2 linked regions of the Homo sapiens genome follow. The protein of the gene in region 2 binds, or shares a complex with, the protein of the main gene of each other region. Each region holds a gene or a part of one and is shown on either strand. Other genes may lie near its edges. The genes, in order: LRP6 and SOST.

Region 1 (8,349 bases), on a different chromosome or scaffold from region 2:
TGAGAATCACTTGAACCCAGGAGGCAGAGGTTGCAGTGAGCAGAGATTGTGCCACTGCACTCCTCCTTGGGTGATGAAGCAAGACTCTGTTTCAAAAAAAACAGATTTTTTTAACGTATCAAAAGCTGAGATTCAGAAATAATTTCTCAAGGTAAAGACTCCAATAATCAAACCCACACTCATTTGAAAGTATTTAATATATCCATACAATGGATTACTCAGCCATTAAAAGGAATGAAGTACTGACACATGCAACATGAATGAACCCTGAAAATGCTAAGTGATAGAAGCTAGACACAAAAGGCCACATATTTTATTCCATTTATATGAAATATTCAGAGTAAGCAAATCCATAGAGACAGAAAGTAAATTCATGGTTACCAGAGGCTGAGGGAAGGGAGAAATGGGAAATGTATGGGTTTTGAGGGAGCAGGGGATGATAAGCGTTCTGGAATGAGATAGTGGTGATGTTTTACAACCCTGTGAGTATACTAAAAGCCACCGAACTAGACATTGTAAAATGGAGATTTTTACTGTATGTGAATTATAGCTCCAAAAAACTTGGTTTAAAAAAGTACTTGACAGGCCGGGTGCGGTGGCTCACGCCTGTAATCCCAGCACTTTGGGAGGCCGAGGCGGGTGGATCACGAGGTCAGGAGATCAGACCATCCTGGCTAACACGGTAAAACCCCGTCTCTACTAAAAAAATACAAAAAAAATTAGCTGGGCGTGGTGGTGGGCGCCTGTAGTCCCAGCTACTTGGGAAGCTGAGGCGGGAGAATGGCATGAATCTGGGAGGCGGAGCTTGCAGTGAGCCGAGATCACGCCACTGCACTCCAGCCTGGGCGACAGAGCAAGACTCCCTCTCAAGGAAAAAAAAAAAAAAAAGTACTTGATAGAAAGGGCTTAATGAAAAAAAAAAAAGAAAGAAAGAAAAAAGTACTTGAGGCCAGGCATGGTGGCTCATGCCTGTAATCGCAAGCACTTTGGGAAACCAAGGCAGGAGGATCACTTGAGCCCAGGAATTCGAGACCAGTCTGAGCAACATAGTAAGACCCTGTCTCTACAAAAAAAAAAAAAAAAAAAAAAAAAAAAAAATTAAAAATGAGCCGGGCGTGGTAGCACGTGCCTATAGTCCCAGCTACTCTGGAAGCTGAGGCAGGAGGATCGCCTGAGACCAGGAGGTCCAGGCTGCAGTGAGCCATGATAGCATCACACCACACTCCAGCCTAGGAAACACAGTGAGACCCTGTCTCAAAAAAAAAAAAAAAACTAATTATATCAGTGCAATAGTTATATCCTAAAACCAGAAAACACGTTACATAGTCCACACCTTGAATTCAATCTCAGATATGAATATGCTGATTTTTTAGTAGTCTATTTAACATATCTAATCTATGCTAAGAAATCTTTATTTATTTATTTTGAAAGACAGGGTTTTGTCTGTGATATGGAGTGCAGTGGCATGATCATGGCTCACTGTAGCCTTGAGTTCCTGGGCTCAAGTGATCCTCCTGCCTCAGCCTTCTAAGCAGCTGAAACTACAGGCATGTGCCATCGTGACCAGATAATTTTTTAATTTTTTATAGATGTTTCCCAGGCTGGTCTTGAACTCCTGACCTCAAGTGATCCTCTCGCCTTGGCCTCCTAAAGAGATGGGATTACAGGTGTGAGCCACCATGACCCAGACTAAGAAATCTTTGTAATCGTTACAAATTTATAATTTAACTATAGCTAATGAACGATTGAGTCAAAACACAAAATGGCATTCCAAATAAATGTCATAAAAATTCACATCTTTTTATATTACTTTAAATGTAAAATTTACAGTGCTCAATATGTGCAAACCTCTGGTACATGGTGCATATAAAGGGGAAAAAGGTCTACTCTTCAAAAACTTTTCATCAAAGAGCTATTTCTGCATTAGCATAAATCTAGAAGGTTACAAATAAAGACAATATAATGTGTAGCTAAGAATTCATGGTAATGAAGTTCACTCGTCACCTTTCTCAGACTTGCAAAACATAGTATCTTTAAACTGGATATATGGATATACAGTACTTAAATTATACGTACCAATAAAGCTAATCATTAGTGAGGAAGACTCCTATCCCTTGCAGTCCTTTACTTGTAGTTTGGGTCTTGTAGTGATAAAACAATGACTAAGACCATTAGAGAAAATAGCCTCCTGGTTAAACATACATAATTTGATAAAGGTAGGTTTCCAATATTTGGGTGACTATTTTCTTGGGAAAAAAAAAATGACAGCTGTGTGCAGCAGGCTCACGCCTGTAAGCCCAGCACTTTGGAAGGCCAAAGCGGGTGGACCACCTGAGGTCAGGAGTTCGAGACCAGCCTGGCCAACATGGTGAAACCCCATCTCTACTAAAAACACAAAAATTAGGTAGGCATGATAGTGGGCGCCTACTAATCCCAGCTACTTGGGAGGCTGAGACAGGAGAATCACTTGAACCCAGGAGGCAGATGTCACAGTGAGCCAAGATCATGGCACGGCACTCCAGCCTGGGTGACAGAGCGAGACTCCATCTCAAAAAAAAAAAAAAAAAAAGACTACTGCTGGTCATGTTATTTTTATTGAGAGTCTCATCAATAACTTTAGGCCTGGTGTTAATAACTTACATAACTTAATGTAGTTTTCTGCCTAAAAATATAATTTCATTTTGCATCCCCAATCTCCTCCTGAAATTAGTTCCAAAATATTTAAGCACTTATACAAGGTCCTTCCAAGCAAGATATTACAGAAACTACAAGTTATGATACCGCTAAAAGGATCACAGCATCAAAGTATCAATAATTTTCACCGAAGAGTCCAAGCACATTTTAAAAGTTTCTAGCCTCACACCCGAACAGCTTGAACCTTTAGTGAGAATACTCACTGCCGCAAACACGAACAGCTTGAGAAACAAAAGCATATGTTAATAATACCAAATAACCTTGTTTCCTTGCATTTATGTACTGACAAATTGTATTTTAAAATAAATAATTTTAAGAGCAAACAGCCTGTTCTTAGATTGCCTAGTCTGTATATTTGACTAAATTTCAAAGTTACTCATATAAAACAGTGTTTTATTCACTGAAGTGAGGCTTACTTTATAGAAGATAAACACCCTTATCCGAAGTGAAAACATGCAATGCAGAAACTCAGTATAGCATTCAGCCATCCTGCAGAAAGAAATCCACCAACTGAATAATTGTTGTAAACAAATAATGCAATTTCTCAATTAGATGTCTTGATAAAATTATTTTGCCCATGCTTAACTCTTTAATAAGTATCACAATCATTTGAACTGTCTGTTCTGTAGCTTATTTATAATAATCATCACCTAAAATAGTTATGGCTGCAATCCTTTAGAAATAAATTTAGGCCAGGCGCGGTGGTTCACGCCTGTAATCCCAGCACTTTGGGAGGCCGAGGCGGCTGGATCACCAGGTCAGGAGATGGAGACCAACCTGGCTAACATGGTGAAACCCCGTCTCCACTAAAATACAAAAAAAATTAGCCGGGCGTGTTGGCGGGGCCTGCAGTCCCAGCTACTCGGGAGGCTGAGGCAGGAGAATGGCGTGAACCCGGGGGGCGGAGCTTGCAGTGAGCCGAGATTACGCCACTGCACTCCAGCCTGGGCGACTGAGCAAGACTCCGTCTCAAAAAAAAAAAAAAGAAAAAAAATTTAGTGTCATTCCGTTTTATATCAAACAAAACAGAAATTTCCATAAGTAAAAGTATTTTATGGAGCTTTTATTCCAGTTGCAGAAGAATCAAAAAAAATTCCAAAACCACTGGCCTAAAACTATCAACTGCCAAAAACAGTGCCCAGGACATAGCGACACTTAAAATGTTTTACCAGTCTTTCCAGAGTATAATGTTTCTTTTAATTCGGCCATCTTAATAATAGCAACCATTTATTCAATGTCTACTATTGACTGTGCGTTCTACTACCCCTTTACAAACATTTCGTCAGTTCTCACAGAAGTCTTGCAAGTTATATCCCCACCTAACAGGAAAGGAAATAACTTGTCCAAAGGAACACAAAGCGGCAGAAGAGTTTAACTTGGCCTGTTTAACAACAAGCCATGTCTTTCTGCTATAGTACCTTCCATATAATCTTCTCTAAATGTAAACTTTCAATAGAATTTCTACGATGAAAATAATCTTTCTCAGAGTAGTTACCCATGGCCTAAATAGCACTAAACATTATTTTTCCAGTATGCGCAAAATATTTAAACAAAAAATATACGTTCTCATAAAATATTTTCCATTAATATATCCCTTCCCAGAATCTCCTTTGATATTTAAAACAGTCCTTTCTGACAGCCAAAGCATATATAAGGACACAGTAGTTCAGTACAGCAAATGGAAAAACTTCCAATTAAAGCAAAGAAAAAAATCTCTTAAAAATTGAATCATGGCCGGGCGCGGTGGCTCACGCCTGTAATCCCAACAGTTTGGGAGGCCGAGGCGGGCGGATCACGAGATCAGGAGATCGAGACCATCCTGGCTAACACGGTGAAACCCCATCTCTACTAAAAATACAAAAAATTAATCGGGCGTGGTGGCGGGCGCCTATAGGCTGAGGCAGGAGAATGGCGTGAACCCGGGAGGCGGAGCTTGTAGTGAGCTGAGATCACGCCGCTGCACTCCAGCCTGGGCGACAGAGCAAGACTCCGTCTCAAAAAAAAAAAAAAAAATTGAACCACAGGAAATCACTATTAGCCCTTCTGATAATAACAAGCTAAAACCTTAAAATTTAATAACCAGACAAATTATTGTTTAGCCAAATGAGCAAACCTGAAGCCAGGTAAGTAAACAGGAATGACAGTATCAAATTAACTATATGAAACTGTCATCAAATATCAATGTAATACTTGACAAGTTTGGAAAATAATAGGTTAAACAAAGTTAAAACCGGTCTCTTTACCTCAGGACTTTTCAGAACCCTTAATGTGTTAACATGAATTCTAATCTCCAAATAAAGTGTACAGAGATCACTCAAGGTTACACAGCAAATTTAGAACCATAACTTAATTCTCCTGATTGCCACTCCAAAATTTGTTCTACTTCCCCAAGACTTTATAACACCTGATTTTAAAGGAAGAAAGGATCGCTTCTACAGAAATACAAGATGCAAAACATTAGTGGTTTGTTCCAACAATATTTACCAGCCCACCAAAACAAAAAAAAGTAACGAAGAATTTTTATATAACAAGCCTCCTCAAAAAAAGCTAAAAAGGCCAGGCGCGGTGGCTCACGCCTGTAATCCCAACACTTTGGGAGGCAGAGGTGGGTGGATCACCTGAGGTCAGGAGTTCGAGACCAGCCTGACCAATATGGTGAAACCCCATCTCTACTAAAAATACAAAAATTAGGCCGGGCACAGTGGCTCACACCTGTAATCCCAGCACTTTGGGAGGTCAAGGCAGGTGGATAACTTGAGGTCAGGAGTTCAAGATCATCCTGACCAATATGGTGAAAGCCCGTCTCTACTAAAAATATAAAAATTATCCGGGCATGGTGGTGTGAGCCTGTGGTCCCAGCTACTCAGGAGGCTGAAACAGGAGAATTGCTTGAACCCAGGAGGGAGAGGTTGCAGTGAGCTGAGATCATGCCACTGCACTCCAGCCTGGGCGACAGGGTGAGATACCGTCTCAAAAACCAAAAAAATACAAAAATACAAAAATAAGTCAGGCATGGTGGCAGGCACCTGTAGTCTCAGCTACTCAGGAGGCTGAGACAGGAGAATCGCTTGAACCAAGGAGGCAGAGATTGCAGTGAGCCAAGATCGCGGCACTGCACTTCAGCCTGAGCGACAGAGCGAGACTCCGTCTCAAAAAAAAAAAAAAAAGCAAGCTAAGAAATAGTATTTCACAGATTACACACACCGATGGTATTCCAAAACCTATATTCTTATCAAAAATACTTCCAGCAGAAGATCAGATATTATTTTTTCTCATCAGTATCCGAATGGAACTAAGAAAATGGTAAGGATGGCAACCTAAACTGTGAGGCCCGTTAGATTAGGAAACACATTGTTTTACTCACCATCAGTACCAGAGGCTGACATATAGGAGGTATTCCATACATATTTGCTAAAAGAATGAATAATAAATCCCTGCCCCATCTTTAATTAACCTACCTTTATTAAATTACAGTATCTCTGAATCTGAGTTTCCCCACTTACAAATAAACTGGTGAGGCTCAAACGACCAAGATCCCTTTCACTTTTAAGAATGTGTGAATCTGGGCCAGGCGTGGTGGCTCACACCTGTAATCCCAGCACTTTGGGAGGCCGAGATGGGCAGATCACCTGAGGTCGGGAGTTCGAGACCAGCCTGACCAACAAGGAGAAACCCCATCTCTACTAAAAATACAAAAAAAAAAAAAAAATTAGCTGGGCATGGTGGTGCATGCCTGTAATTCCAGCTACTCAGGAGGTTGAGGTAGGAGTATCGCTTGAACCCGGGAGGCGGAGGTTGCAGTGAGCCGAGATCATGCCATTGCACTCTAGCCTGAGCAACAAGAGCGAAACTCTGTCTTTAAAAAAAAAAAAAGAATGTGTGAATCTGGCCGGGCGTGGTGGCTCACGCCTGTAATTCCAGGACTTTGGGAGGCCGAGGTGGGCGGATCACGAGGTCAGGAGATGGAGACCATCCTGGCTAACACAGTGAAACCCCGTCTCTACTAAAAAATACAAAAAAATGAGTCCCAGCTACTCAGGAGGCTGAGGCAGGAGAAAGGCGTGAACCCGGCAGGCAGAGCTTGCAGTGAGCGGAGATCACACCAATGCACTCCAGCCTGGGCAACAGAGCAAGAATCCGTCTCAAAAAAAAAAAAAAGAATGTGTGAATCTGCACCTGTAATCCCAGAACTCCGAGAGGCGGAGGTGGGAGGATCACTTGAGCCCAGGAGTTTAAGACCATCCTGGGCAACATAGCAAAACTCTGGCTCTATAAAAATTAGCCAAGTGTTATGGCACACAACTGTGGTCCCAGCTACTTGGGAGGCTGAGGTGGGAAGATCACATGAACACAGGAGGTCCAGGCTGCAGTGAGCAGCGATCATGCCACTGCACTCCAGCCTAGGCAACAGAGCAAGACCCTACCTCCAAAAAAAAAATAGGAATTCGTGAACCTGGCCAAGCATGGTGGCTCACACCTGTAACCTGTAATCCCAGCACTTTGAGAGGATCACTTGAGGCCAGGAGTTGGAGACCAGCCTGGGCAACATATCAAGACACCCCCACACCAACCCCATATCTACAAAAAATTGGGGGCATAGTGGCACGTGCCTATAGTTCAGAGCTTTGGGAGGATGAAGCAGGAGGATCACTTAAGCCCAAGACTTTGAGACTGCAATGAGCTGTGATTACACCACTGCACCCCAGACTGAGTGATGAAGCAAGACTTTGTCTCTTTAAAAAAAAAAAAATTGTGAACGTTATACAAATTAAATCTCAAATCATGAAAGCATTTGAGGATATGTCCCTGAACAAGCAAAAATTATAGCAAAAAGTAACATTAACAAGGTACTCCATATTATTTCATTTAAAACACCCAATAACCCTGCAAACTAGTCAGGTATCATTATCCACACTACCAGTAAAGAAACTGAGACCTAGAGAAGCGGACTAGACCAGAACCACAAAGTTATGAAGTTGTGACACTTGGGCTTTAAATCCAAGATTTTAGTATTGAAATTCCCAAATCTTTCCTTTATACCTTGTCATGTGATGATAGAGATAGGGACACAGCACTAACAGTATTCCCTGGCTTTCTGCTACTAATTCAACAGGGCTACAGGACAGAAGGTCTCCCAGACTCTCACATACCCCATCACACCCAGCCAATGTTAAAGCCCCAATTCTTTGTGGGGGAAAAAAATGACCTAAATGCAACAAATCAATCAGATTTTTCTCCTTGGAGTCCAAGGTTGACTAAATATCTTTACTATAACAGAGGATGACATTCTCAAAGAATGAATTAATTCTAAATTATGAACAAAAATATTTTACATCAAAAGACAGTTTTACTTCAAATAATATGTACTCACAGCTAAGTACAGTACTGTTACATATTAGAAGACCACCTTACACCATATTTCGCCACATTTAAAACGAGAGCTCCACTTCTGAAAACTTTGCTAGTGGAAACGAGACAATTTAAACTATTACCTCTTCCAGGTCTTGTTACATAAATAAGTGCAACCTATCTAAATTCCAATAATGAACAAACCCAGCTCTGGTCTCAAAGCTGGTGTTAAACAAACGGCATTTACATCACACGCTTCTCCTCCAAGAAATACAACTAGACAACCAGAAACATCCCAAGTTATAA
Region 2 (9,136 bases):
TATTCAAATGATTTGAAAACTTAACGTTCGTATAAAAACCTGCACACAGCTGGGCATGGTGGCTCATGCCTGTAATCCCAGCACTTTGGGAGGCTGAGGTGGGCAGATCACTTGAGGTTAGGAGTTTGAGACCATACTGGCCAACATGGGGAAACCCCTTCTCTACTAAAAATACAAAAATTAGCCAGGTGTGGTGGTGCTCACCTGTAATCCCACCTACTCGGGAGGCTGAGCCAGGAGAATCACTTGAACCCAGGAGGCGGAGGTTGCAGTGAGCTGAGATCACGGCACTGCACCCCAGCCTGGGAGACAGAGTAAGACTCCGTCTTAAGACAAAACAAAACAAAAAACCTGTACAAAATGTTTATACCACCTCTATTAATAATTGCCAGAGCTTGAAAGCAACCAAGATGTCCTTCAGTAGATGACAGTAGGTGACTAGATAAACCGTGATACATCAAGACGATGGAGTATTACTCAGTGCTAAAAAAAAAAAATAAGCTGTTCATGCCATGAAAAGACATGGAGGAACCCCAAATGAATATTACTAACTGAAAGAAGCCAATCTGAAAAGACTATGTATGGGTATATTCCAACTCTATATGACATCCTGGAAAAGGCAAAAATAAAGGTACAGTAAAAAGATCAGTGGTTGCCAGGGGTTGGGGAAAGTCGGGGAGGGATGAATAGGCAGAGCAGATAGTTTTTTTGGACAATGAAAATACTGCCCATCTGTATGATACTATAATGGTAGATGTATGTCATTATACATTTGTCCAAAGCCATAGGATGTACAACACTAGTGCTGTGATGTAAACCATGGACTTCAGGTGATAATGATGTGTCATGTAGGCTCATCAATCATAGCAAATGCACCACTCTGGTGGCGGGATGTTGATAACGGGGGCAGCTGTACATGTGTGGGCACAGGACATAAATGAGAAATCTCTGTACCATCCACTCAGTTTTGCTGTGAACCTAAAAGTGCTCCAGAAAAAAAATAAAGTTTTTTTTAGAAAAAAGCATCTGAACCTTTTTTTCAGTGGCATTGATCACCTTCCATCTGGTAGTGGAGTTGTTTGGATGCGGAAATTATTTCTTCCATGGTATGCGAGCTCCTGGAGAGGGAGTGCGTGTCCCCCTTGCTTTATTAAACGTTTGGCGAGTGAACATCGGAAGAAGCAACTCGACAGAAACAAAAGCTGGTAAATAATCACATGGAAAAGCAGCTTTTCTGGAAATTAAGTTTCAACTGTTAAATTCAATGTTTAAAAAAATCGGCTGGGTGCGGTGGCTCCCGCCTGCAATCCCAGCACTTTATGGGATTGTGGGAACACCTGATGTCAGGAGTTCAAGACCAGCCTGGCCGACATGGCGAAACCCCATCTCTACAAAACAAATAAAAAAAATGCAAAAATTAGCTGGGTGTGGTGGCGGGAGTCTGTAGTCCTAGCTACTCGGGAGGCTGAGGCAGGAGAACTGCTTGAACCCAGGAGGTGGAGGTTATATGAGCCAAGATCACACCACTGCACTCCCGCCTGGGTGACAGAGCGAGACTCTGTCTCAAAAAAAAAAAAAAAAAAAAAAAAAAAAATCAACATCCCAAACCCAGTGTTGACAGTCTTATTTATGGGTTGAACTGCATTCCTCCCAAATGCATATATTGAAGTCCTAAGTCACAGTACCTGAGAATGTGACCTTATTTGGAAATAGGGCTATTACAGATGTAACTCGTTAAGATGAGGTCATTAGGCTGGGCCTAATCTAATATGCCTGACCTCCTTAGAAAAAAGGGAAAATTCGAACACAGAGAGAACACCATGTGAAGATGAAGGCAGGGATTGGGGGTGACACTTCTGCAAGCCAGTGAATGCCACAGCTTGTCAGCAGCCAGCAGAAGGCAGGTAAAAGGCCTTCCTCGCTGTCCTCGAAGGAACCAACTCTGCCAATGTCTTGAACTTGCACTCCTAACCTCCAGCTCTGTGAGACGACTTCTGTTGTTTATGCCACCCAATTTGTGGTACTTAGTTACGGCAGCCTCATCAAAGTACCACCTATGGGAGCCTCTATTTTGCAGGTGAGGGCGGGGACTGGGCTTTTTCTGGAAAACAGCCCTGCAATACCCTCATCAGACCACCAAACTCTTCACACTCCCTCAGACACAGCATTCACTTCCAGAAATAACTCTAAAGTTTTGTTTTGTTTTTTTAAACTTTGTGGAATACTACTCAGCCAAAAAAAAAAAAAAGAAAAGAAAAAGGAACATGTTACTGATATGTACAACTTGGATAATGGAAATAATGCTGAGTGAAAAAAAAATCCCCAAAGGCTACATACTAATTGATTCCATTTATATAACCTTTTTTTTTTTTTTTGAGACAGTCTCACTCTGTCACCCAGGCTGGAGCACAGTGGCGCGATCTCAGCTCACTGCAACTTCCGCCTCCTGAGTTCAAGCGATTCTCTTGCCTTAGCTTCCCAAGTAGCTGGGATTACAGGTGCGTGCCACCATGCCCAGCTAATTTTTGTATTTTTAGTAGAGACAGGGTTTCGCCATGTTGGCCAGGCTGGTCTCGAACTCCTGACCTCAAGTGATCTGCCTGCCTTGGCTTCCCAAAGTGCTGGGATTACATGAGTGAGCCACCGCACCTGGCCGCATTTATGTAACAATTTTGAAGTGAAAAAAAAAAATGACAGAAATGGAGATTAGATGAGTAGTTGCCAGGGGTTAGTTGTGGGAGGGAGGGAAAAGGAGGGAAGGAGGTGGGCAACAGGAGAAAGACTTGTGGTCACAGAGCTGTGCTTTATCTTGACTGTGGTGGATCCCCAAATTTACCCGTGACAAGATTGCATAGAACTAAGTATACACACACGTGAATGCGTGTGCACGCACACAGTAGAGGTTAAACCACGGGAGATGTGGGTAAGATTGGTAAATTGTGTCAATATCAATATCCTAGTTGTGATATTGTCCTATAGTTTCGCAAGGTGTTATTGTTGTGGGAAACTGGATAAAGGATACACGGAGTCTGCATTTTCTTTTTTTTATTTTTATTTTTTGAGACGGGGTCTCACTCTGTCATCCAGGCTGGAGTGCAGTGGCCCAAGTATGGCTCACTGCAGCCTCGACCTCAACCTCAAGTGAACCTCCCACCTCAGCCTCCCAAGTAGCTAAGACCACAGGCGTGCGACCCCATGCCCAGCTAATTTTTAAATTTTTTGTAGAGACTAGGCCTCACCATGTTGCCCAGGCTTTTATTTCTTATAAGTATATTTAAATTTATAATTATATCCACATTTTAAAATTTTAATTTAAAAAATTACTCTGAGGCCGGGCATTGTGGCTCATGCCTCTAATCCCCAGCACCTTGGGAGGCCGAGTTGGGCAGATCACCCGAGGTCAGAAGTTCGAGACCAGCCTGAGTAACATGGAGAAACCCCCGTCTCTACTAAAAATACAAAATTGGCCGGGCGTGGTGGTGCATTCCTGTAATCCCAGCTACTCGGGAGGCTGAGGCAGGAGAATTGCTTGAACCCAGGAGGTGGAGGTTGCAGTGAGCCAAGATTGTGCCACTGCACTGCAGCCTGGGCCACAGAGAGAATCTGCCAAAAAAAGAAAAAAAAAAAAATTTCAGCCGTACAAGGATGTTCATAGCAACCCTGCTGGAAATAGGAAAAAAAATTGGAAATAACCTAAACTACTCACAATAGGAATCAGCTAAAACCCTGGGGGTTTAATTCCAGGGAGTACTGTGAACAATGACAAGTTTGTGGACTGAGTAAAAATAAACAGCTGTCAATGACTTAACATTAAATGAAACAGCAGAAGATGTCACAGCAGGTTCTCGCTGAGCCATTCAGAGGGGTGTGGATCATTTAGAGGTTCAAGTCCACTGGATTCTTCTTTTTCCTTTTAATATTACTTCACTTCCAAATAAGGAAAGGAAAGGAAAGGAAATCACGTCCAGTCCTGAGACTTGCCATCCTGCAGTCACCCCTCCTTTTGTCTCCAGCAGGTGGCAGACGCGTTCCAGGGATGAATCCCACTGCCTCTGTTTAATGCAGACGGTCCAGCCGCTCCCAACAGCAGGTGGGGCTATAAGCATCCATCCTACCTGCTCAAGGAACCCAGGCATCAGAACTGCTCTCTCCCAAGTCCATTGCAAGAAGGCAGTCGTCTGGTCATGAGAGGGTTAACAGTCCACATTCCAGAGCAAGGGAAAAGGAGGCTGGAGGGTCATAGACAAGGGGAGGTGGCGCGGAGGGCCAGCTTCTCACAACACTACCGGCTCTGCTGGGAGAGATAGATCACCCCCAACAATGGCCACAGCTGTTTTCATCTGCCCTGAAGGAAACTGACTTAGGAAGCAGGTATCAGAGAGGGCCCTTCCTGAGGGGGCTTCTGTCTGGCTTGTAAAACTGTCAGAGCAGCTGCATTCATGTGTCGGATGATGGATGATGGAAAGGAGGACAGTCGGCTGCAGATGGACACAGCGACTTGCAAGTTGAGGCAGGTGGCAAAGGACTTGCAGAGGCTCTGCAGGTGGGGCATGCTGATTCATTGCCCAGTTAAAATACCAGAGGATCTGGGCAGCCTCTTCACAGGAGCTGCTTGTCCTCAAACAATCTGTCTTCAATGAAAGATTCCTCTGGCCTTCCTTTCTCTTCTTGCACCTCAGGTGTGAATCCTTCTCCCCCACGCCTCTACCTGCCCCCCCGCCCCCCGCCCCGGCCCTGTGTGGCTCATTATATGCAGGGCCAAGGCAGCATTTTCTCTTAGCTTCTTTGTGACCACTTGGTCCTGGGATGGCTTCATGGAACACATCCTGTGGTGTGCACCAATGAAGCTTTCCATACAGGACTCAAAACTGTTTTTGAAAAATGTAACCAGCTGGAAGACAAGAAAATAAAATGTCAGCACTAAAAACGCTGGCTGTGGCTTTTGCTAAGGAAAGGAATTTGGTGTTGTCTTCTCACACACACAGACTGGTTGGGGAAATGACTGTCTTCAGCACATCACCCTGCGAGCCACAGTGAGTGCCCTGGCTCAGAAGTGCCTGTCACAGTGCACAGGATCCCTGAGGAGCATGAGCTGGGATTTCCTCTGTGCTGTCCACCACAGGAGCCTGAGTGACCAGCGCATCCTCGATTTGTAACCAGAATCCTGCCCTCTCTCCCAAGCGGGCACCCTTGCTCTGACCCTCTAGTTCTCTCTCTTGCCTTCCAGAGAATACCAAGAGAGGCTTTCTTGGTTAGGACAATGAATGCTGAGACTTGTGGAGTTGGGACCAATGGGATTTCTTTAAAAGCATCTTTTTGCCTCTGGCTGGGTCTATGGGGGTCAAACAGAAACGCCTTGGGCCATTTGTTGGTGGGGTGACAAATGAACTTGGCCTGAGAAATGGAATAGGCCGGGCTCAGCCCCGCGAAGCACTCAGAACTGCACATTTTCTTTGTTGAGCGGGTCCACAGTTTGTTTTGAGAATGCCCGAGGGCCCAGGGAGACAGACAATTAAAAGCCGGAGCTCATTTTGATATCTGAAAACCACAGCCGCCAGCACGTGGGAGGTGCCGGAGAGCAGGCTTGGGCCTTGCCTCACACGCCCCCTCTCTCTGGGTCACCTGGGAGTGCCAGCAGCAATTTGGAAGTTTGCTGAGCTAGAGGAGAAGTCTTTGGGGAGGGTTTGCTCTGAGCACACCCCTTTCCCTCCCTCCGGGGCTGAGGGAAACATGGGACCAGCCCTGCCCCAGCCTGTCCTCATTGGCTGGCATGAAGCAGAGAGGGGCTTTAAAAAGGCGACCGTGTCTCGGCTGGAGACCAGAGCCTGTGCTACTGGAAGGTGGCGTGCCCTCCTCTGGCTGGTACCATGCAGCTCCCACTGGCCCTGTGTCTCGTCTGCCTGCTGGTACACACAGCCTTCCGTGTAGTGGAGGGCCAGGGGTGGCAGGCGTTCAAGAATGATGCCACGGAAATCATCCCCGAGCTCGGAGAGTACCCCGAGCCTCCACCGGAGCTGGAGAACAACAAGACCATGAACCGGGCGGAGAACGGAGGGCGGCCTCCCCACCACCCCTTTGAGACCAAAGGTATGGGGTGGAGGAGAGAATTCTTAGTAAAAGATCCTGGGGAGGTTTTAGAAACTTCTCTTTGGGAGGCTTGGAAGACTGGGGTAGACCCAGTGAAGATTGCTGGCCTCTGCCAGCACTGGTCGAGGAACAGTCTTGCCTGGAGGTGGGGGAAGAATGGCTCGCTGGTGCAGCCTTCAAATTCAGGTGCAGAGGCATGAGGCAACAGACGCTGGTGAGAGCCCAGGGCAGGGAGGACGCTGGGGTGGTGAGGGTATGGCATCAGGGCATCAGAACAGGCTCAGGGGCTCAGAAAAGAAAAGGTTTCAAAGAATCTCCTCCTGGGAATATAGGAGCCACGTCCAGCTGCTGGTACCACTGGGAAGGGAACAAGGTAAGGGAGCCTCCCATCCACAGAACAGCACCTGTGGGGCACCGGACACTCTATGCTGGTGGTGGCTGTCCCCACCACACAGACCCACATCATGGAATCCCCAGGAGGTGAACCCCCAGCTCGAAGGGGAAGAAACAGGTTCCAGGCACTCAGTAACTTGGTAGTGAGAAGAGCTGAGGTGTGAACCTGGTTTGATCCAACTGCAAGATAGCCCTGGTGTGTGGGGGGGTGTGGGGGACAGATCTCCACAAAGCAGTGGGGAGGAAGGCCAGAGAGGCACCCCTGCAGTGTGCATTGCCCACGGCCTGCCCAGGGAGCTGGCACTTGAAGGAATGGGAGTTTTCGGCACAGTTTTAGCCCCTGACATGGGTGCAGCTGAGTCCAGGCCCTGGAGGGGAGAGCAGCATCCTCTGTGCAGGAGTAGGGACATCTGTCCTCAGCAGCCACCCCAGTCCCAACCTTGCCTCATTCCAGGGGAGGGAGAAGGAAGAGGAACCCTGGGTTCCTGGTCAGGCCTGCACAGAGAAGCCCAGGTGACAGTGTGCATCTGGCTCTATAATTGGCAGGAATCCTGAGGCCATGGGGGCGTCTGAAATGACACTTCAGACTAAGAGCTTCCCTGTCCTCTGGCCATTATCCAGGTGGCAGAGAAGTCCACTGCCCAGGCTCCTGGACCCCAGCCCTCCCCGCCTCACAACCTGTTGGGACTATGGGGTGCTAAAAAGGGCAACTGCATGGGAGGCCAGCCAGGACCCTCCGTCTTCAAAATGGAGGACAAGGGCGCCTCCCCCCACAGCTCCCCTTCTAGGCAAGGTCAGCTGGGCTCCAGCGACTGCCTGAAGGGCTGTAAGGAACCCAAACACAAAATGTCCACCTTGCTGGACTCCCACGAGAGGCCACAGCCCCTGAGGAAGCCACATGCTCAAAACAAAGTCATGATCTGCAGAGGAAGTGCCTGGCCTAGGGGCGCTATTCTCGAAAAGCCGCAAAATGCCCCCTTCCCTGGGCAAATGCCCCCCTGACCACACACACATTCCAGCCCTGCAGAGGTGAGGATGCAAACCAGCCCACAGACCAGAAAGCAGCCCCAGACGATGGCAGTGGCCACATCTCCCCTGCTGTGCTTGCTCTTCAGAGTGGGGGTGGGGGGTGGCCTTCTCTGTCCCCTCTCTGGTTTGGTCTTAAGACTATTTTTCATTCTTTCTTGTCACATTGGAACTATCCCCATGAAACCTTTGGGGGTGGACTGGTACTCACACGACGACCAGCTATTTAAAAAGCTCCCACCCATCTAAGTCCACCATAGGAGACATGGTCAAGGTGTGTGCAGGGGATCAGGCCAGGCCTCGGAGCCCAATCTCTGCCTGCCCAGGGAGTATCACCATGAGGCGCCCATTCAGATAACACAGAACAAGAAATGTGCCCAGCAGAGAGCCAGGTCAATGTTTGTGGCAGCTGAACCTGTAGGTTTTGGGTCAGAGCTCAGGGCCCCTATGGTAGGAAAGTAACGACAGTAAAAAGCAGCCCTCAGCTCCATCCCCCAGCCCAGCCTCCCATGGATGCTCGAACGCAGAGCCTCCACTCTTGCCGGAGCCAAAAGGTGCTGGGACCCCAGGGAAGTGGAGTCCGGAGATGCAGCCCAGCCTTTTGGGCAAGTTCTTTTCTCTGGCTGGGCCTCAGTATTCTCATTGATAATGAGGGGGTTGGACACACTGCCTTTGATTCCTTTCAAGTCTAATGAATTCCTGTCCTGATCACCTCCCCTTCAGTCCCTCGCCTCCACAGCAGCTGCCCTGATTTATTACCTTCAATTAACCTCTACTCCTTTCTCCATCCCCTGTCCACCCCTCCCAAGTGGCTGGAAAAGGAATTTGGGAGAAGCCAGAGCCAGGCAGAAGGTGTGCTGAGTACTTACCCTGCCCAGGCCAGGGACCCTGCGGCACAAGTGTGGCTTAAATCATAAGAAGACCCCAGAAGAGAAATGATAATAATAATACATAACAGCCGACGCTTTCAGCTATATGTGCCAAATGGTATTTTCTGCATTGCGTGTGTAATGGATTAACTCGCAATGCTTGGGGCGGCCCATTTTGCAGACAGGAAGAAGAGAGAGGTTAAGGAACTTGCCCAAGATGACACCTGCAGTGAGCGATGGAGCCCTGGTGTTTGAACCCCAGCAGTCATTTGGCTCCGAGGGGACAGGGTGCGCAGGAGAGCTTTCCACCAGCTCTAGAGCATCTGGGACCTTCCTGCAATAGATGTTCAGGGGCAAAAGCCTCTGGAGACAGGCTTGGCAAAAGCAGGGCTGGGGTGGAGAGAGACGGGCCGGTCCAGGGCAGGGGTGGCCAGGCGGGCGGCCACCCTCACGCGCGCCTCTCTCCACAGACGTGTCCGAGTACAGCTGCCGCGAGCTGCACTTCACCCGCTACGTGACCGATGGGCCGTGCCGCAGCGCCAAGCCGGTCACCGAGCTGGTGTGCTCCGGCCAGTGCGGCCCGGCGCGCCTGCTGCCCAACGCCATCGGCCGCGGCAAGTGGTGGCGACCTAGTGGGCCCGACTTCCGCTGCATCCCCGACCGCTACCGCGCGCAGCGCGTGCAGCTGCTGTGTCCCGGTGGTGAGGCGCCGCGCGCGCGCAAGGTGCGCCTGGTGGCCTCGTGCAAGTGCAAGCGCCTCA

Evidence for each region.
Region 1: the proteins of SOST (region 2) and LRP6 are in contact, whole or in part, in a crystal structure (PDB 6L6R), measured with the Homo sapiens proteins. Residues at the interface, in NP_079513.1 of Homo sapiens: Leu115, Pro116, Asn117, Ala118, Ile119, Gly120, Arg121, Arg169, Thr171, Arg172, His174, Asn175, Gln176, Ser177; in NP_001401174.1 of Homo sapiens: Arg28, Asp52, Val70, Ser71, Glu73, Leu95, Ser96, Asp98, Glu115, Arg141, Trp157, Trp183, Asn185, Ala201, His226, Phe228, Trp242, Met269, Arg336, His361, Asp379, His404, Asp406, Thr422, Glu447, Arg449, Trp465, Trp491, Asn493, His534.

Annotation. Positions count from the first base shown.
Region 1 is NC_000012.12:12,256,713-12,265,061, forward strand, and holds part of LRP6 (low-density lipoprotein receptor-related protein 6 isoform b precursor), read right to left. Parts: intron 1-8,349. UniProt on the Homo sapiens protein: Component of the Wnt-Fzd-LRP5-LRP6 complex that triggers beta-catenin signaling through inducing aggregation of receptor-ligand complexes into ribosome-sized signalosomes.
Region 2 is NC_000017.11:43,755,473-43,764,608, reverse strand, and holds the start of SOST (sclerostin precursor), read left to right. Parts: upstream 1-5,817; 5' UTR 5,818-5,867; coding exon 5,868-6,087; intron 6,088-8,845; coding exon 8,846-9,136. UniProt on the Homo sapiens protein: Negative regulator of bone growth that acts through inhibition of Wnt signaling and bone formation.